Regions from separate parts of the Homo sapiens genome. Here all the other regions are linked to region 1. The links come from fine-mapping of genetic effects on gene expression. A gene starts in region 1. Each other region holds a variant in brackets. All regions are shown on one strand. Distances are between the middles of the regions.

Region 1 (5,267 bases):
TGCTAATCTGGCCATAAAATCTGTCAGTGAGGGTTAGAGAGAGCTGTATTTCCTGCAGGGACAGTCTGCCCGAGTTGCCTGAGATAAGCTCTGGATCCTTCAGCCAGCTACAGAAGCTGTTGCTAAACTTTCAGAGGTGTTCAAGGGGGTGGCCAGAGGGAGAACCCACTCTCAGGCCTCCCTGCATGACTTCCAGACAGCTACTATTTGGATTATTCTATGCCCACCCCCATCCACACCTCTAAATGGCAAAAATTGTTTTCTTTGGAGCCTAGTTGCACACTACTGTCGCTGGCCACTTTGCCCAGGTCAGAGCAGCTCTCTCTGTTCTGAGCCCTCCAGAGCATGCCTCCTCGGTCCCTGCAGCCCCCACCTCCAACTCCCCTTTCTCCATCCTCCTCTCCCCCACCCTCATGCTTCTACTCAGACTTCTCTGTCCTTCTTTTTAAGTACTCACGCAGATGTTACACTGACAGAAAGTTTCTAGTTCCAGCTCCGGGCTCAGTTGCCATTTCTCTGCTAACCAGCCTTCTCCTCCTGGCTGGGCAGCAGAGAGAGAGGAGGGGGAGGGGAGGCCAAAGCCATGGGAGTTCTCCAGGCAAACTTTCCACCCAACTTAGCGCTTTCCCTCTGTCCCCATTTCCCATCTGTTTCCCAGCTCTCCCAGAATCACCCTTCTCTTTTGCACCCCCACCCCCACCCCCAGGCCTTTTTAAGGGATGTGAAATTTTGGCTGTTCGCTCTGCTTTCCCAAAGAGCCAAATTCTTTGATGCAATCGGAGGGAGCTGTCAGGGGGCTAAGATTGATCGCCTCATCTCCTCTCCATCCGTCTGACCCACTTATTTAAAAATCTTCCCCCAGATCGACTTTTCATTTTCTGCTTTGAGGCCTAGTTTCCCACCAATTGCTTGGGGCTCAGAGTCTTGTGCCCTCTCCCCATAGTAAATTACAACACTCTAAACTTCAGACTATCTTGGTCTCCTCAAAATAAAATAAATTTTAAAAACATTTTCCCCCAGCAGCCAGAAATGGAATATCATCTCAGTGGTCATTATTTCCACCCCTACCATCTTCAGGGAATTCTTCCTTGTCAGGGATTCTTTTTTTTTTTTTTTTCTTTTTTCTTTTTTAACTAGCACAATGGCAAAAATGGGAGGGAAAGTCTCTTTGTCCTAGGGGAAAATCTCCCCACCACACTCATGCACACACATAACGCTGATCTGAACTTTGAGAGTGCTCTAAGTTAAACCAATGGCTACCTCAGTTCTTGTTCATGTCCCTGGATATGGATACAGATACAAGCTTGAGGCTTGAGTGGGTACATGCACATCTTAGACTCTGCCTGTTTTTGGGGGATGTCACAGAGAAGCATGGAAGCCTGAAAGTGAGGAAAGCAGGGGTACATAAGGGGCAGAGGCAGTGCTGCAAACACTGGGCAGAGAAGAGAACCCAGACCATACAGCGATGGAGGCCAGAGGCCCAAAAATGCCCCTTATGCTCCATCTCACTCCTATGTGTCTGCCTGGGAGTTCCTGTCCATTTCCCAAGATTTAACTGTTGTTTTTGGAGGGTAACAGGGATAGTGGTGTGATGATTGTAAATCTCTTTCTTATTTTCACCTTAATACTGACCTTTTTCAAAGAGTGGAAGCCTCTTTCGACTCCCTCTTCCTCCAACGCGGAGATCCTCACTCATCTTTTCCTGGGGAAGGGGAGAAGGGAAGGGGATGCTGCTGGCCACGTAAAGAAGGCCTTAATTTACTCTATTAAAATACTTGGAAAAGAGGAAGGTTTCTCCCTTAGAGTCTCTTCTTTTCCAGGCTTCTGAAACCTTCTAACCTTCGAAGGGGATGAGGAAAAGGTTCCTCTAGCTTTTCTGGAGAAACGGAGGCATTGGGGAGAGAGCATGTGAGGCACTGGTGTAGGAATGGGGGCTCATGGTGTCCTGGTCGTGGTCCTCTGGTGTTTTTGAATCAATTAAACCAAATAATGCTCTCTGTTTTCCACCAGGCCCAGACGAGCGATTGGCGGAGGCCGGTCCCGTGACCACGAATTCCCTGTAATTTCGCTGGAGTCCTGGGTTTAATAGAGAGAGTCCCCATACGCTTGTATTTATCAGCAATATACAATTATAAAGGCCCAAAATTAAAAAAAAGAGAGACCGAAATCTCCCCCTCCCAAAATCGCTCCATTACATAAATCGGGGGGGGTGCAGGAGGGGGGTCCCTTCCGATCCTCCCTCCTGACGCCCCCCCCAGCAGCCCCCTCCCCCACCATTGAAAGCCATGAATTTTGAATTTGAGAGGGAGATTGGGTTTATAAACAGCCAGCCGTCGCTCGCCGAGTGTCTGACTTCCTTCCCCGCTGTCTTGGAGACATTTCAAACTTCATCAATCAAGGAGTCGACATTAATTCCTCCTCCTCCTCCTTTCGAGCAAACCTTCCCCAGCCTCCAGCCCGGCGCCTCCACCCTTCAGAGACCCAGGAGCCAAAAGCGAGCCGAAGATGGGCCTGCTCTGCCGCCGCCACCGCCGCCGCCACTCCCCGCTGCCCCCCCGGCCCCCGAGTTCCCTTGGATGAAAGAGAAGAAATCCGCCAAGAAACCCAGCCAATCCGCCACGTCTCCTTCTCCGGCCGCCTCCGCCGTTCCGGCCTCCGGGGTCGGATCGCCTGCAGGTCGGTAAGCGTGGTGGGGGTGGGGTGAGGGGCAGCTAGAAGAGGGGGAGAAAAAGCAGTGGAAGGAGGTTTAAAAAAAATGGTGGCGAGCCTGTTGGGGTTCCTTACCCCCTCCATTCCTGGGATGGGGAAGTAGAATATCCCACTGGGGTTCAGGCCTGGCCGCTAACAGCGTCTTTTTTTTTTTCTGTCTCTCTCTCTCTTTCTCTCCCTATGGCTGATTTTGGAAGCTGGTTGGGGAAACGCCTTTTTTTCTGCTAGAAGAAAATGATTTGATTGAGGTTTTCACCCGTATCTGTGTAGGGGAATGAGTATGTTGTTGCTGGGATAGACCCTAGAAGCAGAAAAGATTCGGTCCTTTCTGCCCCAACTCTAGGAGAAGAGGAAGAATTCAGAGCTAGGGAGGAAGAGGGGTGAAGAACAATCTTTCTGACCCTCGCTCCGGTTGAGTTGGAAAGTTCCGAATTGAGGGGTCCACTGGGAGGGCTTGGGAGGGGGATCTGAGGTTCCGGCGCCGAAGGGAGCCGCTCTCCGCCCCCTGCGTGGCCCGTGGGCGGCTCTGAATGCTTTGCCCTGACCCGGGCCGGGGCTGTAGACTAGAGAGGGAGAGAAGAAAACCCAAAAGCAGTAAAGCGAGCGGCTTTGGGGTGGGGGCGGGGGTGGGGTGGCGAGGAAGGGGAGAGGTGATACTGGTTTTGGAGGATGGGGTAGTCCGAACTGAGGTTGGGCTGAGTACACGGCCCGCTATGACGCCGAGCCTGTTTTCCCTGCAGATGGCCTGGGACTGCCGGAGGCTGGTGGCGGCGGGGCGCGCAGGCTGCGCACGGCTTACACCAACACGCAGCTGCTGGAACTGGAGAAGGAATTCCACTTTAATAAGTACCTGTGCCGGCCACGCCGCGTCGAGATCGCGGCCTTGCTGGACCTCACCGAAAGGCAGGTCAAAGTCTGGTTTCAGAACCGGCGCATGAAGCACAAGCGGCAGACGCAGCACCGAGAGCCGCCGGATGGGGAGCCTGCCTGCCCGGGAGCCCTGGAGGACATCTGCGACCCTGCCGAGGAACCCGCGGCCAGCCCGGGCGGCCCCTCCGCCTCGCGGGCGGCGTGGGAAGCCTGCTGTCACCCGCCGGAGGTGGTGCCGGGGGCCTTAAGCGCGGACCCCCGGCCTTTAGCCGTTCGCTTAGAGGGCGCAGGCGCGTCGAGTCCCGGCTGCGCGCTGCGCGGGGCCGGCGGGCTGGAGCCCGGGCCATTGCCAGAAGACGTCTTCTCGGGGCGCCAGGATTCACCTTTCCTTCCCGACCTCAACTTCTTCGCGGCCGACTCCTGTCTCCAGCTATCCGGAGGCCTCTCCCCTAGCCTACAGGGTTCTCTCGACAGCCCGGTCCCTTTTTCCGAGGAAGAGCTGGATTTTTTCACCAGTACGCTCTGTGCCATCGACCTGCAGTTTCCCTAACCTGTTTCCTCCTCCCGGTCCTTTCGACCCCCGCGCTCCTTGGCCGTCTACTGGAAAAATCGAGCCTCTCCCACCCTCAGTCGCATAGACTTATGTGTTTTGCTAAAATTCAGGTATTACTGAATTAGCGTTTAATCCACTCCCTTTCTTCTTCTTCTAAAATATTGGGCACTCGGTTATCTTTTAAAATTCACACAGAAAAATTCCGTTTGGTAGACTCCTTCCAATGAAATCTCAGGAATAATTAAACTCTAGGGGGACTTTCTTAAAAATAACTAGAGGGACCTATTTTCCTCTTTTTTATGTTTTAGACTGTAGATTATTTATTAAAATTCTTTAATAATAGGAAAAGGGGAAAGTATTTATTGTACATTATTTTCATAGATTAAATAAATGTCTTTATAATACCAAAACGAGTGTTTGTGTTGGGACCTAAACTCTTTCCCCGCGGCCCCAAGGCCGGTCCTCACCCCTCCAGGACCTGTGCGAAGTTGATTAGGTTCAGCGGCCCATATGGCAGCAAAGCCTCCAGGGCCGGCGAAGTCCGGGTGGTACAAAGGTGACCCGATTGATGGCCGCTTCGCCCACGGCTCCGGCAAAAGTCGGGAGTTTGCAGGAAGCTGGGTCACCTCCCCGCCCCTCAGCAGAGGGTCTTTGGTCCTGAGCGGGTGGTTCTGGGGCCTCTGCTTGGAAATAGAGATGGGCAGGTCGAGGGAGAGAGTGTACAGCGAACAGAGGAGGGTGAAAGGAGAGGAAGCCTGTGGACAGTCTTCAGGGTCGTGGCGGGGGCAGAAGTTTACTGGAATTGGGAACAATCCAAGGGCTTCCTAGGCTTTTGCTTCTTATGACCGAAGCCGGTGTAGGACCTTTTTCCGAACTCAAGAAGCCTAGGGACGCGAGGCCTGGGGCTTGAGCCGGGCCTCTTTGGGAGCTGTAGGTGGCTCTCCAAGGAGTGGAGTGGGGTCGGGGATTTTCTCGGGAAGCAGGGTCCCGCACCCAGGGATGGTAACTGGCTTCCCAGTGGGCAAGAAAAGAGGCCAGCTGAGAAATGTGGCGCTGCCGGGACACCCATGGACTCGGGCTGCTGGGGTTTGGGAGACCATCCAAGCAGCAGCCGGGCGAGAAGCCCAGGGTGGCC
Region 2 (5,503 bases), 58 kb after region 1:
TCCTTGGTTGATCCTGTGCAGAAGTCGATAGCTTATCTCCACGCAGCAACCAGAAAGTGAGATGGTGAGTGCAGAAGCCAGCAACCCTGAGCATCTTGGGAAATGGCCTGCTGTTGTGAGCAGCTCTGCCCCCTACCCAACCCTACCCCCAAGCAAAGATCACCCACAGATACCTTTTGCCTGTCTGGTCTGTTATCCTACAATCAGAGGGGTCACTGGATTGGGAAAGAAAAAAGAAAAGGCACTGGATAGCTGGGGATGCACCACATGCCCTTGTCCTTCAGATGTCTAACTCAAAGGGAGTTCAAGTGCTGGTTTTGTCTCTGATGTGCTGTGCAATATCAGAAAGGTCACTCAGTCTCTGAAACTCCAATTTCAGTAGGCAAGTAGGCCCCAACCATAGTGGGCCTTTATGTATTTGAATCCAGGTTCAGAGCCCTAGTAGGTCCCAAGGAATGGAAAGTAATTGCTGTTTCCAGTAACTTCTGTTGGGGCATGCCCTTACCCTCTAGCACTTCCCTCTTCTGTCACTCTGTTCTGCACTCCAATGGTTAGACAAGGAAATTTTGTCCCTGGCAAAGATTTTCTCACCTGGAGTCCTCCCGGGTTCAATTCTGAGAACACCTGGGAGTTGGAAGTACATTTTTCATCAATTCTTTTTTTTTTGGAGATGGAGTCTCACTCTGTCACCCAGGCTGCAGTGCAGTGGCGCAATCTTGGCTCACTGCAGCCTTTGCCTCCTGGTTCAAGTGATTTTCCTGCCTCAGTCCCCTGAGTAGCTGGAACTACAGGCACCTGCCACCATGCCTGGCTAATTTTTGCATGTTTAGTAAAAACGGGATTTCACCATTTTGGCCAGGCAGGTCTCGAACTCCTGACCTTGTGATCCGCCGGCTTCGGCCTCCCAAAGTGCTGGGATTACATGTGTGAGCCACTGCGCCTGGCCCAATTTTTTTTTTTTTTTTTGAGACGGAGTCTCTCTCTGTTGCCCAGGCTGGAGTGCAGTGGCCGGATCTCAGCTCACTGCAAGCTCTGCCTCCTGGGTTCACGCCATTCTCCTGCCTCAGCCTCCCAAATAGCTGGGACTACAGGTGCCCGCCACCACGCCCAGCTAATTTTTTGTATTTTTAGTAGAGACGAGGTTTCACTGTGTTAGCCAGGATGGTCTTGATCTCCTGACCTTGTGATCTGCCCGCCTCGGCCTCCCAAAGTGCTGGGATTACAGGCATGAGCCACTGTGCCCGGCCCAATTCTTAATCTAATAAATATTCAACTTCTCTGCTAGAAAAATATTTTCCATTCCCACAGGCAATAAAAAGTAGAGAAATCCCTTCGTGTTTTGCTTCAGTCTAAGTCAGTAGTTCTCAACAGGGAGTGATTTTGTACCTCTTCATTCCCCCAAACACAGGGGATATCTGTTGTTATCTGAAGGCATTTTTGGTTGTCACAACTGGGAGGGGGTTGCTATGGGCATCTAGTGGGTAAAGGCCAGGGATGTCCCTGAACATCTTACAATGCACCAGTCAGCTCCCTACATCAGAGAAGGATCTGGCCCAGAATGTCAATAATGCTGAGGTCGAGAAACCCTGGTCTAAGTCATCATTAAGCAAGGTCCTTGGTGGAGTTTTGGGAGCTCACAGAATGTGGAGTTGGCATGGGCTTGCCCTCACAATGCTCCTGTATAATCTGGGTTAGGAGGCATCTTGTCTGATAAGAGAGACATAGTTCTTAACTTTGTGCTTGGGGAGTTTATAGTTTAAAGAGAATTGTATAGAAACATGATGCATTTAACCAATATTTATCCATTTAACATGTATTAATTGAGCTCCTATTGTATTCCAGGTTCTATGTATGGCACTAAAGATGCCCTAAATGAGTTCCCACTCCATGCACCTGGGAGAGAGTTTTCCTTCCCCTCAGTCCTGTTTCCAGTTACCACGGTGGGCAAGTTTTGCCTAATATGCTTGTGGGTGGGAAGGAAGGATATTCCAGAAGAATAAAAGGTAGTATAAAGAGATGCTAGAGAGCTGAGTACTTACAACACAGAGTATATGATGAACAGCACTTAGAAAAGTAGAAGCCAAACTTGTGGGAAGGAAAAAAAAAGACTTGAGTTTCATTGTAAGAGCAGGCATGCCTCCTGGAGTCAAGAAGGCAGCCCAGCACTGGAGACGCTGCTCAGACTTGAGACTGGTAACTGCGGTCAGACCCGGGTCAGGTGATTGGAATTCCCTCAGCTGCATGACTAACAGGATTCAACATGGACAGCCCCGCTCTTCAACATGCTTTGGAGCTCACAGCAAGTGTTCTGTGAACATGGTAGAAAGAGAGAAAACTTAGCAAGCACAGTGCAGACTGAAGTGCTCGGTTACTCTCACATGGAGATCTTCCTCCTTTGTATCCCTTGCACAGTAGAATTTGCCATGAATGGTGAAAGAGGAGGATCCCCAGAAAGTTGGGAGTAGGTCAAATACTTGATTCTGAATTGTCCTTCAGGAACTTTAGGGACATGAGCAAATTCCTTTTCTCATGAAGTAGGATGCAGAAGAAGTA[G/T]GCTTCATATAGGATTATTACATGCATTCATTTGAAATTTATTAAACACCCACAATGTGCAGGAATTATTCTATGTACTTCAAAGGTTTTTTTTGTTTTTTTTTTTTGAGATGGAGTCTCGCTCTTGTCTCCCAGGCTGGAGTGCAATGGCACGATCTCGGCTCATTGCAACCTCTGCCTCCCAGGTTCAAGTGATTCTCCTCCCTCAGCTTCCCAAGTAGCTGGGATTACAGGTGCCTGCCACCATGCCCAGCTAATTTTTGTATTTTTGGTAGAGACAGGGTTTCGCCATGTTGGCCAGGCCTCGAACTCTTGACCTAAGGTGATCCGCCTGCCTTAGCCTCCCAAAGTACTGGGATTACAGGCATGAGCCACTGCTCCCGGCCATACTTCAAAGTTACAAGGATATGTTTGTTCATTATTCATTCATTCACTAACAGTCATATAGTGAACCCCTACTATATGTCTGGCGCCATGCTAAATGGTTAGATACCGAAATGAAACAGTCTCTGTCTTCAAGAGTTCATAGGAAACAACCAGTTCTTAAATTTCAACCATGTACCAGGCATTGAGCCAAGAGCTTTATGCACATGATTTCTTTAATACTCACAACAACCTCAAGTCTACTTTATAGATGAGGAAAATAAAAGCCCAATAAGTTTAAGCCAACAGTATGGTTATTCTTCCAAAACTTGATAATAGAACTACCATAGGATTCACCAGTTCTACTTCTGGATATATATCCAAAAGAATTGAGGAAGTCAGGGTCTCAAAAAGATATCTGTACACCCATGTTCATAGCAGCATTATTCACAATGGCCAAAAAGTGGAAGCAACCCAAGTGTCCATCAGTGGATAAATAGATAAACAAAATGTGGCATATCCATAAAATGGAATATTATTCAGCCTTAAAAAGGAAAGAAATTGAAGGCCGGGCATGGTGGCTCACGCCTGTAATCCCAGCACTTTGGGAGGCCGAGGCAGGCAGATCATGAGGTCAGGAGATCGAGACCATCCTGGCTAACATGGTGAAACGCCGTCTCTACTAAAAATACAAAAAATTAGCTGGGCGTGGTGGCGCACACCTGTAGTCCCAGCTACTCGGGAGGTTGTGGCAGGAGAATGGCATGAACCCAGGAGGCGGAGGTTGCAATGAGCCCAGATCATGCCACTGCACTCCAGCCTGGGGGAAAGAGCATGAGACTCCATCTCAAAAAAAAAAAAAAAAAAAAAAGGAAAGAAATTTTGACATGTGCTACAACATGAATGAACCTTGTGAGGACATTATGCTAAGTGAAATAAGTGATTCACAAAAGGACAAATACTGTGTGGTTCCACTCATGAGTCATCAAATTCATGGTGATGGAAAGTAGAGTGGTGGTTGTCAGGGACTGAAAGGGAATGGAGAATGAGGAACCGTTGTTTAATGGGTACAGCTTCAGTTGTTCAAGATGAAAAAAGGTTGCAATATAACGTCAATATACTTAACACTGCTAAACTATACACTTAACAATCATTAAGATGGTGAATTTTATGTTATGCATATTTTACCACAATTAAATTTTTTTTAAAAAGTTTAAGCCATGTAACCCAGGTCTGATTCTAAGATCCCATTAGTTTCTTTCATCACAAAACAACTATAAGACAAGGGGAATGTGACATTAGAAGTATAAGCAAGGAATAATTTACTAATGTGTTATCCTTTGCATCTGAAGATAACAGCATTACTAGTTCTCTTTGGGCAACTGTGGCTACAAAGAGAGGCAAAAGCCCATAGCCCCTAAGTCAAGATTTAACACCGTTCACAGAGTCTGATGAAGTTGGAGATTCAGACTTGTCCTCGCTAAGTCATTGTTCAGGAAGATCTTCACCCCATCTCCCTTCTCACTCACATTCCTTTTTTGTCCACTCATGTGACCTCTGCAACTGCTCACAGCCAAGAACTGAGATTCACTCCTGGTGGAAACAAATATTCTGAAGGCAGAAAGTGCCAGCCCCCATCAGATTTTGAAGGAGGCCAAGTTTATCTTTCAGGCCTTGGGCTTTTGTTTTCTGCAACTGGCACCAGGCTTAGAGTCGGGACACCTAAGTTCTAGCATCCTAAGCCATATTAACTTGCTGTATGATGCTGTGAAAGACACTCCTCTCTGGGCTTTGGTTTCCTCATCTGCAACAGGAGGAGTCTGGCTCATGATTGCTGAAGCTTCCCCTCCAGCACTAACCTTGTAGAAGTTTTGAACCATTTGGCCCCTTAACTCCATTGCCTCACCAGGCTCTCTCAGAAAAACTAAATTTCTCTTTCAGCAAAACTGCTGTGGACAGGGTCTGATAAATTCATTCCCACAGAGGCACATTCTGTCCCATGGTATTTGCATTTCCATTTGGATCCAGATGAAAGGGAATGAGACTCTCACTTAGGAATGTCTTTTGATTCAATGAGCAACAGGCTTTTTGAAGGGGCAGGGTGGAGGTGGGGAGAGGGACTCACCCCAGGCTGCCAACTAGTGAAGCAAGCCCTGGGCCAGGACTCAGCCCTCAGGTGGAGATCTTGGTGTATCTCTCCAAGCATGACCTTTTTGTACTGGCCCAGGTGTGAACCCACCATGCAGCTTCCTCTTTTTCTGGGGGCTCTGCAGGGATGCTGGCGGCCTCTCTGTCCCTGGAGAAGAGAGTTCCAGCTCAGATACCAATGAAGTCATCGAGATCCGTGGTCTGAGCTGGAATCCGGAATCTGGCAGGAGGGCCCACACGGCAGCTGTTTGTGGTTTCTCTTTTCCTCTGAAGGAAAGTCTGAGCAGATGATGGCCTAGGTGCTGCCTGTTTCCATGTGAGGGAGGAGCAGGATGTGGCTGCGGATCAGTGGAACAGGAGGGGAATTGGCAAGCAGAGTCTGAGTGATACATAGATTACTTATTTCATGAGATGAAAGATCCCAACCTCTCCCAGAGAA
Region 3 (5,500 bases), 150 kb after region 1:
CAAAGAACTTTGTGTGTGGTTTGTGGGGTAGACATTCAGGAAATCATCAGCGGGAACTTTAGGAAATATCTGCATTGTTGATGGGAGCTTTCTGTTCATTGACTTGTTGCAAGAAAGATGACACTTTATTTAGAATTTCATAATTATCAGATCACTGAGGAAATGAGGAGCCAGAAATTAGATACTGTACAAGAAAATAGAAAAACGAGGCTTTCCTTTGGCAAGCTGTTTGAAATTGCCTTACATCCACCCATTCAATCATCATTCTGTTAATGTAACCCTTGTTTTCCTGAATCCTCTTCTTCAGCCATATCACCTCTATTGTGCCATTTATAGCTGCCACATTTACTTATGTTGTGTGGCAGTTATATGTCCCCCAAAAAGCTTGGCATAAAAAGAAATTTAGAAGTCATCAAACTTGAGAGTTAAACATGTATGGCAGGCTAAACGCAGTGGCTTACTCCTATAATCCCAGCACTTTGGGAGGCTGAGGCCAGAAGATCGCTTGAGGCCAGGAGTTTGAGACCAGCCTGGGCAACATAACAAAACTCTCTCTCTACAAAAAATAAAAAGTTAGCCAGGTGTGGTGGTATATGCCTGTGGTCCCAGCCATTTGGGAGGCTGAGGTAGGAGGATCACTTGAGCCTAGCAGGTTGAGGCTGCAGTGGGCCATGATCATTACATTGCACTTCAGCCTGGGCGACCAAGTGAGACTCTGTCTCAAAAAAAAAAGAGTAAAAAATAAACATACGGCAAATACATGAACCATACAGTAACACAAAAATAATTAAAATTAATGAAGATCATTTAAAAGGGTTTCTTTTTAGTCATTTTTTTGTTTGTTTGTTTTTCGCTTTTTTAGACAGAGTCTCACTCTGTGGCCCAGGCTGGAGTGCAGTGGCACAATCACAGCTTGCTGCAGCCTCGACCTCCTGGGCTCAAGCGATCCCCCGACCTCAGCCTCCTGAGTAGCTGCACATCACCATGCCTGGCTAATTTTTTACTTTTTGTAGAGACAGGGTGTCACTGTGTTGCCCAGGCTGGTCTGGAACTCTTGCACTCAAGCAGTTCTCCTGTCTTGGCTTCCCAAAATGCTGAGATTACAGGCCTGAGTCTCTGTGCCTGGCCTATTTTTAGTCAGATTAAAACAATAATATTTTAGGAGTTTGATAAATTTGGGGGGGGTGGTAACCTATCTAAAACTATAATTTAGCACTTCAAGTCTTATTTGGAAGGTAGATAAATCTCTAGCAAGATAATCTGGAAAAGCCACTACTAGATAAATGTAAATTATATATTTACACACACATATATATATATTTTACAACTTCCTAGTCTCTTTGTTGTTTCCTTGCTTCCTTTAATTCTTTCCTCAACGTGTATTGCTCTAGAAACAAAAGGGTGGAGAGAAATAAAAGTAGCACTGTCTGTGATTCTTGGTAAACTTTAGGGGCTTAGCTCTTATTTTTATGGCTGGCTTGGCATTCACTGGTATTTGCCATGGTTGTGGACTTGCTGTAAATGGAAGCATCTGACTCTATCACAGCTATTATAATGTGCTTTTTGCTATTTTTTGTTGTCTAGAGTGAATGACCACAGGAAAAGACAATTGTGTCAAGAATCCTGGGTGTTCTCCAAGTGCTCATGTTTTTCAGTACAAATCACTTTAGCTATTCTGTTTTTAGACTTAGAAACAAAAAATAGCTATCTTTTTTTAGACTTAGAAACAAAAAATAAAATCCTATCTATATTTACATACTCTTTTCTTTTTGTTTGAAAGTGTTACCAATGAAGGCTAATATTTTCCATGTAACACAAAATAAAAACGGATAGCAATTTCTGTGATTCCAAGGAAATGAAGCCCTATTGTGGTATTTGTTGTCCTAAGCTGTGATTTTCATTGCTTTTCTTAAAAACTAAACAGCTTTCACATTCCAAGTCTAAGTTTTCATTGAGCCCTTTGGAGAGTGGCTAGTATGAAAGCCAGGCAAAGGCACTTCCTGCTTTATTACGATGGTCACTGCAGGATTAGCACCAGATGTGAGACACCTGGAATGAAGCAGTTGTGATCTGTGCTCAGACACTTGATGGCATTCTAACGCATTGGGAGAAACAGTAGAGCATTTTTTAAATGTTTGATTCAGTGGAGGCCATCTGACTGCAAGAATACGTTGAGAGTGGGGGAGGGGTAAAGAAAAAAAAAATATATATATATATATTTTTTTTGAGACCGAGTCTCTGTTGCCCAGGCTAGAGTGCAGTGGTGCGATCTTGGTTCATTGCAACCTCCACCTCCCAGGTTCTGGCGATTCTTGTGCCTCAGCCTCCCAAGTAGCTGGGATTACAGGCATGAGCCACCACACCTGGCTAAAGGTTTTTGTATTTTTGGTAGAGATGGGGTTTTACCATGTTGGCCAGGCTGGTCTCTCCTGACCTCAGGTGATCCACTCACCTTGGCCTCCCAAAGTGCTAGGATTACAGGAGTGAGCTACCACGCCCAGCCAAAAATAGAATATTTTTATTATTGAGATATGGCTTAATTTCTCTCTCAATGGCCCTTCTTGGATAAGTAGTCATTTATGCTCCCTGTTGGAAGTGAAGGACAGAGCCAATGGAAGCAAACTTGGAGTATTGTTTCCTTCTGTGAAACTTAGTAATGCTGAAGGAGTTCCAAAAAGAGACCAGTAGATTTATATCATATTGAGATGGAAAGAAATAAAGAAATACATTTTGTGTAACAGGGTTATGGCACAAAACTCAGGACATTTAAACTACAGGCTGAAAGAATATCTTGAACGTGTCTCATTTGTGGGTGGCTAACCTATAGCTCTGTGTGAAACATGATATACTAGTAAAATCTCATAAAAATAATTCTGACTTTCTTTGGGAATTTCATGTTTTCTTTTCAGCTTAACGTGGATTTAGCTTTAAAACAAGATTTAGCTTAAGAATGTATAATTCTGATATTTTTGTATTATAGGAAGAAAGACAAGGAGTTAGCCTGATAAAAC[T/G]CTTGGGAGCAAGAGTTTTGAAGTAGTATACTGTAAATATAATTACCATTAATTATATAGAGAGTTTTACTTTTCTTAAATGTTAATTATTGAGCTTAAAAATCCCCAAAACAAAACACATTCAAATGAAGTATGCTTATCAAAAGAACTAATGTATAATGTGCTATTAATACATTTATGTTATTCACAAGTTTCAAGATTTACTCATAACATCTTTTTCTGTTTTTTAATTTTGCTACTTGTACTGGAGCTTCAGTGCCAATGCAGAAAAAAAAAAAAAAAAAAAGGAAGAGGTAGTTGAATGATCCGTCTAAGTTTAAATAGCTCTGAAAAGGCTCAAAAGTCATAGCAATAATTTGACCACATCTGGAAGGTTAATAACTCATTTCTTCCTTTTTCAGTCTTATCCCTCCCTCCCATCCTTAAAGGAAGAAAAAACAAACCCACAACAACTTCAACATTATTACTCAACTCATCAGTTATATCAGTCAAATTTTTGCTTAGTTCTCTGTTATTCAGTGGATGAATGTTGAGATTTCACAACTGAGTTAAAGAGTTTTGTGAATCTACTTCTCTAGGAATGAGAGGTTGTATTTATTGCTGTTTTAATCTGGAATGCCCTACAGGTGAGAAAGATAGAATATTACTTACTGTTGATCTCTTGGCTTAACTTTTAAGACCTGGTAAGGAAGATCATCTTATGTGTTTTTTATGGCAAGTCTCTGTCCTTTCAAAATAGCTTTGAAATGTATAACTCTCCTTATAATTTTATCATAATGATTATTTTGTTTATTCTTTCATATGTGAGGCTATCTGGAAGTAGAACAATTTTTCTTAAATAACATTTTTTAATGTAATAATGACCATAGTCCTTGGTGGTTCAGAATAAACCATACCTTTTATATTTTCATTTTATATCTTTAAGATTTTAGATTGAAGTTCAGAAAAATGTTTTTGATGTTGTTGTTGTTGTTGTTAGTTAGTTAGTTTTTTGTTTTTTTGAGACAGAGTCTCATTCTGTCACCCAGACTGGAGTGCAGTGGCATGATCTTGGCTCACTGCAACCTCCGCAAATTCAAGCAATTCTTGTGCCTCAGCCACCCGAGTAGCTGGGACTACAGGCGTGCACCACCATACCTGGCTAATTTTTGTATTTTTAGTGAAGACGGGGTTTCACCATGTTGGCCAGGCTGATCTTGAACTCCTGGCCTCAAGCAGTCCACCCACCTTGGCCTCCCAAAGTGCTGGGATTACAGGCGTGAGCCACCGCACCTAGGACAATGTATTTTTAAGAGAGTTTTTAGATCACTTGCAAAACTAGATCATGTATAATTCTTCCCAGTACTGAGCTCCTCAATCAAGAGTGAAAAGGAGTTTGGGATTGTGAGCTAGAACACAGGCAGGTAACTGAACTTGCACCCTTACAGTCTGACTAACCCATTAGAATAATAAGCTGAGCCGTACTCTTTAACTGTATAGTTAGGTCACTGAAATTTGCTTTACTCCTGATAGAATTTTAGCCATCGTTATCACTTGGGCACATTCCTATTAGCTACTCAATATGGATTTGTCTTGGTTTCAGAAAATCCTGTGTCCTTTTTTTTTAATACGTGAAGCCTCACTGTCTGTAGATGGACTTAATTCATACATTGTGTGAAAAGATCATCTGTATGAAATTACTGCCTTCATTTTTATCACCATTTGCTTTGGCTTTGATTTTAAGTCTCATTTGATCTGGAGCTAGCCTTTTGTCCCAGAGCTATGCTATTTTCTCTGTTTAAGGAAAGCCAATGAAAAAGGCCTCTCTGTATTTATCTGTTTGTGGATTCCAGGAACCTGTGGCTTGGGACCTTACTGATGATGGTTTTCTCTAATTTGCATGTTTTCTCTTGTTTCTGATATGGACCCAGCCTGTATCCACTTTCTGTGTTACAGGGAAACTGGAACAGAGGGGAGGGAAATGCAAGAGCACTGGGCCAAGTGTCAGGAGCCAAGCCCTTTGTTCTGATGTTACTTCTGTAACACTGAGTCACTTGAAGATTCCCCTAATGATAATCTTATGTTTTCTTTTTAGGTTGCTTACCCAAAATGTTGTTTGGAATTATTTTTTTAAATAAATGTTCCAAAAATGCACACATTACCAACCAAACCTTAAAACTTCTATTTGATTTCTTTTATGGTACCCCCATGACTTTTTAAAAAATTTGGAATGTGATGCAGGAAATTTCATTTCTTGGGATTTTATTTTATTTCATGATTCTGTTGAAAATGAGTTGAGCATAAAGTGGGTTTTTATAATCACACCATGTGAATCATTTCTTCTTTGGATTCTGGATCTTCTCTCCTAGTGTGTAGCCTCCTCTAGTCTCCCTGAAGTACAGTGCTAGCAGGGTTGATAATGAAATGCAGTCCTGCTTATCACACTCAGCAAAGGGCTCAGAGAAGATGGGAAAAAAATCAATCCCACAGGAACTTCTCGAGTGCTAGAC
Region 4 (5,000 bases), 570 kb after region 1:
CAGGGCATCTGGGCCCCTGGCAACACCTTCTGGAGCTGCCAGGAAGAGACAGAGAAGTGATAAAGGATCAGAGGACTGGAGAAGGAAAAGACCCTCAAGTGTGAGAAGCCCTGGAGGATTAATACGGACAGACTCACTGTGCTAAAGCCACTTCTTGTTCTAATCCAAGGGGGAAGGCTACCTTGTCCCAGGTGTCTCAGCTCTAATCAGGTACCACTTTCCAACTCCCAGACTGAGAGGAGGACCAGAGCTGGGTTCAGAGGGGTAGAAAGGCCGGCTCTCTGCTCTGGTGGACCGCAGGAGGTAAAGTTTCATCCTGCACCGCCCTCTAGTGGCTCAGACACCACTACGTCTTCTCTGCTGTTGGGGCGGGGGTCATGTCACACTCCAGGGCCCCGATCCCCCTAGAGCCCTCCTACCATAACAGCTGGCCCACATGTGGTCTCTAAAAAGTTGAGAGTTTCTAAACTCTCAACTTTTAAGAACCTCTCTTGGGCCAGGCACGGTGGCTCACACCTATAATCCCAGCATTTGGGAGGCCGAGGCAGGTGGATCACCTGAGGTCAAGAGTTCGAGACCAGCCTGACCAACATGGAGAAACCCCAACTCTACTAAAAAAATATAAAATTAGCTGTGCGTGGTGGTGCATGCCTGTAATCCCAGCTACTCGGGAGGCTGAGGCAGGAGAATAGCTTGAACCCAGGAGGTGGAGGTTGCAGCGAGCTGAGATCATGCCATTGCACTCCAGCCTGGGCAACAAGAGCGAAACTCCGTCTCCAAAAAAAAAAAAAAAACCTCTCTTGGTCCCCCTCAGCTCACATCCTCATCAAGGTTTTGAGAAACAGTTAAATGTGCAAGAAGCCTCATCTTAGCGCTGCATTTTTTGTTTCTAGACACGTGGGGGCCCTTGAGCACCCCACTTTTGCCAGGGCTGCAGGGGATGGTGCACTTACCCTGGGTTCCTGCTTCCAGCACTGTGATCTGCAAAGCAACAGCATCGTCTCCCCAGTCTATCCCATCACCTCCAGGATCCTGGAAGGAGAGCAAAGAACCACAGCAATGGGGGGAGAATTTTCCTGAGCCAAGGAGCCAGAATAAACCAAAGCCCTTGATGAGGTCAATGGCTGCACATTCCAACTCTATTAAGGATTTGCAGCCCTGACTTAGGTGCCAAAAATGGCAGTATGGCCCATCATCCCTGCTCTGTAGTGTTCCCACCTGCCTTTACCCCTACACCCTGTACCAAACACCAAGAAAAAGGACATCAAAATTTAACTCTCACATGGGCTGGGCGCAGTGGCTCACGCTTGTAATCCCAGCACCTCAGGAGGCCGAGGCAGGTGGATCACCTGAGGTCAGGAGTTACCAGCATGGCCAACACGGCGAAACCCTGTCTCTATTAAAAATACAAAAATTAGCCGGGCGCGGTGGCTCACGCCTGTAATCCCAGCACTTTGGGAGGCTGAGGCGGGCGGATCACGAGGTCAGGAGATCGAGACCATCTGGCTAACATGGTGAAACCCCATCTCTACTAAAAATACAAAACAATTAGCCGGGCGTGGTGGCGGGCGCCTGTAGTCCCAGCTACTCAGGAGGCTGAGGCAGGAGAATGGCGTGAACCCGGGAGGCAGAGGTTGCAGTGAGCCAAGATGATGCCACTGCACTCCAGCCTGGGCGACAGAGTGAGACTCTGTCTCAACAAACAAACAAACAAAATAAAAAATTAGAGGGGTGTGGTGGTGGGCGCCTATAATCACAGCTACTTGGGAGGCTGAGGCAGGAGAATCACTTGAACCTGGGAGGCGGAAGTTGCAGTGAGCCGAGATTGCACCACTGCACTCCAGCCTGGGCGACAGAATGAGACTCTGTCTCAAAAAACAAAACAAAACTCTGACATGTGACGTGTGAAACTCTGCCTCCCTTGGACTATACCTGGTCTTAGAGCTATGAACTTCAAGTGATGCCGTTACAGACACAAATGACACTTTTCTTATGGTTAGAGTAGTGATCAGAGAGAGACAGACTGAGAAGGCCTCCTCACCTTTGAATCTGATTCCGGGAAGATGCCCCAGTCGATTCCAGCAGCCTCGGCAGAGATGCCAGAGTCAGTCCCCTCAGACACTGCCTCTACCCCAAAGTCGCCCCAGTCAATCTGGAAAGGGAAAGAGAGTGTTAGCTCATGGAAGATGGATTTAAAAAGGGCCGGGCATGGTGGCTCATGTCTGTAACCCCAGTACTTTGGGAGGCCGAGGATAGTGGATTGCTTGAGCCCAGGAGTTTGAGACCAGCCTGGGCAATATGGCAAAATCCTGTCCCTACAAAGATGTTAATAAAAAATTAGCTAGGAGTGGTGGTGCAAACCTGTAATCCCAGCTATCTTGGAGGCTGACTTGGGAGGATCGCTTGAGGCTGAGAGGCAGAGGTTGCAGTCAGCAAGGATCATGCCACTGCACTCCAGCCTGGGCAACAGAGCAAGGCCCAGTCTCAAAAATAAATTAATTTAAAAAGGAGGGTGGGGCTGCCTTCCCACAGGCCTCAGCTGCTTCTGTAGAGAGCACACTGTTCAAATGCAGTGGCCTCTAAGCTACC[C/T]CAAAGAAAGCCCATCTTCAGAGAGCTCACATGATGGAGGTTCCGAGTTCAAAGCGAACCACCTTGCAAAGCCTCTGTGGCACTCACTCACCTATACTCAGAAAAATAAAGGAGTAGGGCCTCCTGGGCCCTTCTACCTACAGTCACTCTCACAGAAATCCTCCCTTCTTCTCTCTGGGTCTTGGGTTGGGCTGTTGGGGGTGGGGAGGGGACAAGCAGCTCCCACTCCACTCCTACAGCTCATCACAAGGCCCATCTTACCGCATCTTCTGCCACCTGCTCAGGAAGCTCCTCGAGGTGGGGTCGTTCCACCACAGAGGGCTCTGTCCCTGTCCTCCACTCGTACACCGTTGAGTTTCCCCGCTTCTGCACGAACCGCAGCATTGGCAACACCTGCTCTGTGGGGCTTCAACAGAGCACACAACTGACTCTCCTGCCGACCATGCGTAAGGCCAACACTGGGCTTTGGCCTGGGCCACATGGTCAAATGGGCAAGGCCCCCACAGGTTCAGGTGTGTAAAGAGTTCAAATGTTATATGGGAACAAGACAACTGGAGAAGGGTCATGAGCTGGGGAACACAGGCAAAGCACCCCCACCAGGAGAAGCTGAGGCCTCTCTACCTCTCACACACAAACCCCACAGACGCCTGGTACACGTCAATGGCTTCCCCCAGGGACTGCTGAGCCGCTGCCCCAATCTCAGCCAGCTGACTCGGCAGGTCCTTCACCAGGGCCAGCAGTTCTCCTCGGACATTTTCGCCCTAGAGAGGGGAGAAGAGGTGGAGTCCAACAGATTGAAGAAAACATCCAAAGACCGAAGAAAAGTAAGACACTGGCCCAAAGGGGGTGCAACCAGGCTGAGGGGTCAGACGGGGTCAGAGGAAGACAAGCAGGGGCCCAGGTGTCCTCTGGCTGCGAAGAGGCTGCCGCCGCTCACCGTGATGCCATACTGCTTGCAGGAGTGGTAGAACTGCTCCCGCATCTCGGCAGCCCCTGCCTGGCACTCCTCCTCCTTGCGGCTGTATTCTTGCTGCAGCTGCTGGCACTTGGCAATCTGCTTCTTCAGTGAGGGGATCTCATAGTTGACATTCCGAACCAGGAGGCTAGAGAGTTCCACTGAGAAGTGCCCAGGAAATTCAGCCCAGGACACCCCCACATGAGGCAGGCATGCCCCAGGATGCACACACATCCTTTGTGGTGGTGAAGAGCACGAAGTCAGCTTCCCAGCCCCACTTGTTCCCAGCTGTGGAGCCTAAGACAAGTTGTTTAACCCCTCTAATCCAACCCTCATCGGTAAAACAGCGACAATAACATTTATCATGAAGATGCAAGAGAGAATCCACATGACACACCAAGCACAATTCCTTGCATTTAGTAGATGCTCAGGAAATATTAGCCATTATTATTATTTATACTACACCCAACCCAAACACAGTTAGTCCTGTAGTTGCTCTCAGGCACTTGATATTCGCTCCCAGAAAAACCCGTGCCTCTTCTGCCTTGTGTAGAATGGGGGTGCGGGGGTGGGGGTGGGGGCAGCACACTCCCGCTAACCAAGAGGTGAGTGGTGGAGGACCCACACACACCTGCTCGCTGAGGCACGGCGAATGGCCACTACCGGCCTGGACCTCCTCCTTCCCCCAGCACTCCACTCAGGGAAAATCAATTCCATCAAAAACAATTGATTTTACCACCTACAAATGGGCAACATCTACACTCCAGTCTCTTCCCACTCACAGACTGTGCCTCCTATAAGCCTGGTATCTCAGAACTCTGAGAGTGGGCTTCCCCATGGATACCAGGGCTCCCAGGCCGGGCCACTTTACCTAAGTAGGTGTTGTCCTTCTCATACAGAGCTATAATCTCCTGCCAATCCTGAGTAAGAACAGAAAAACAATGTTAAGCCAGAAAAGCACTCGACAGCCACATCCCAGCTCAATCCCTAAACAGGGTAAGTTCTCCCAGCCTTTACATCACATCAAACACAAACTCCTTGTCCTTCTTTCAACTCTGCTGGCTGGACCACCCACTTTAAGAGTGCAGGCAATCCCTAAAGCAGTGGGTTTGAAAATTAAACTCAGGGATAGGATCCACTTTTGGAGTAAACTATAGAGACAGAGTGAAAGTTCAGGAAATATTCTATGTAGGCATCCCCACTGGAGCCTCAGAGAGACCACAGAGGCTATGACTCCTCGGATTGGATGTCCCCAACCACATACTACCGGCCCTTGGCCCACACTTGCCTTCATCCGCTGTGAAGAGTATCGGCCAAAAATATTCTTCGTGGAGGCCTCTGTGCCTTTGAGAAGGTCCAGGATTCTTAGGCAGTGAAAGTAGTGAATGTCTAGAAAGCAAGAGACGGGATTTCGAGAACTAAAGTATCTTCTTCACCTACTCTGGGCACTGCAGGT

The links. PIP is the estimated chance that this variant, and not a neighbour inherited with it, causes the effect.
Region 2: its variant is fine-mapped to the expression of HOXB-AS1 in whole blood (INTERVAL, PIP above 0.99).
Region 3: its variant is fine-mapped to the expression of HOXB-AS1 in whole blood (INTERVAL, PIP above 0.99).
Region 4: its variant is fine-mapped to the expression of HOXB-AS1 in whole blood (INTERVAL, PIP 0.98).

Annotation. Positions count from the first base shown.
Region 1 is chr17:48,541,930-48,547,196 of GRCh38, reverse strand. HOXB-AS1 (HOXB cluster antisense RNA 1) reads right to left here and starts at 2,846. Exons shown (of 7, transcript NR_102279.1): 1 at 2,785-2,846; 2 at 1,840-2,076; 3 at 1,633-1,702. It overlaps HOXB2 (homeobox B2), which reads left to right and starts at 2,088. Exons shown (of 2, transcript NM_002145.4): 1 at 2,088-2,676; 2 at 3,450-4,542. The coding sequence starts at 2,286. The coding sequence ends at 4,129. RefSeq lists an enhancer at 3,220-3,865 and a silencer at 3,673-3,962.
Region 2 is chr17:48,483,446-48,488,948 of GRCh38, reverse strand. LOC124904019 (a long non-coding RNA gene) reads left to right here. Exons shown (of 2, transcript XR_007065828.1): 1 at 1-64; 2 at 1,843-2,017. Among named protein-coding and RNA genes, the nearest start is that of HOXB1, 45 kb to the left of the region's middle. RefSeq lists an enhancer at 4,639-5,503. The variant G/T (reference allele first, on the strand shown) is at 2,554.
Region 3 is chr17:48,389,582-48,395,081 of GRCh38, reverse strand. The region is part of intron 2 of SKAP1 (src kinase associated phosphoprotein 1); the gene reads left to right. Among named protein-coding and RNA genes, the nearest start is that of SKAP1, 38 kb to the left of the region's middle. The variant T/G (reference allele first, on the strand shown) is at 3,012.
Region 4 is chr17:47,973,864-47,978,863 of GRCh38, reverse strand. CDK5RAP3 (CDK5 regulatory subunit associated protein 3) reads right to left here. Exons shown (of 14, transcript NM_176096.3): 4 at 4,833-4,933; 5 at 4,416-4,464; 6 at 3,527-3,705; 7 at 3,211-3,350; 8 at 2,851-2,995; 9 at 2,042-2,152; 10 at 954-1,032; 11 at 1-35. Among named protein-coding and RNA genes, the nearest start is that of CDK5RAP3, 5.3 kb to the right of the region's middle. RefSeq lists an enhancer at 2,965-3,465. The variant C/T (reference allele first, on the strand shown) is at 2,590.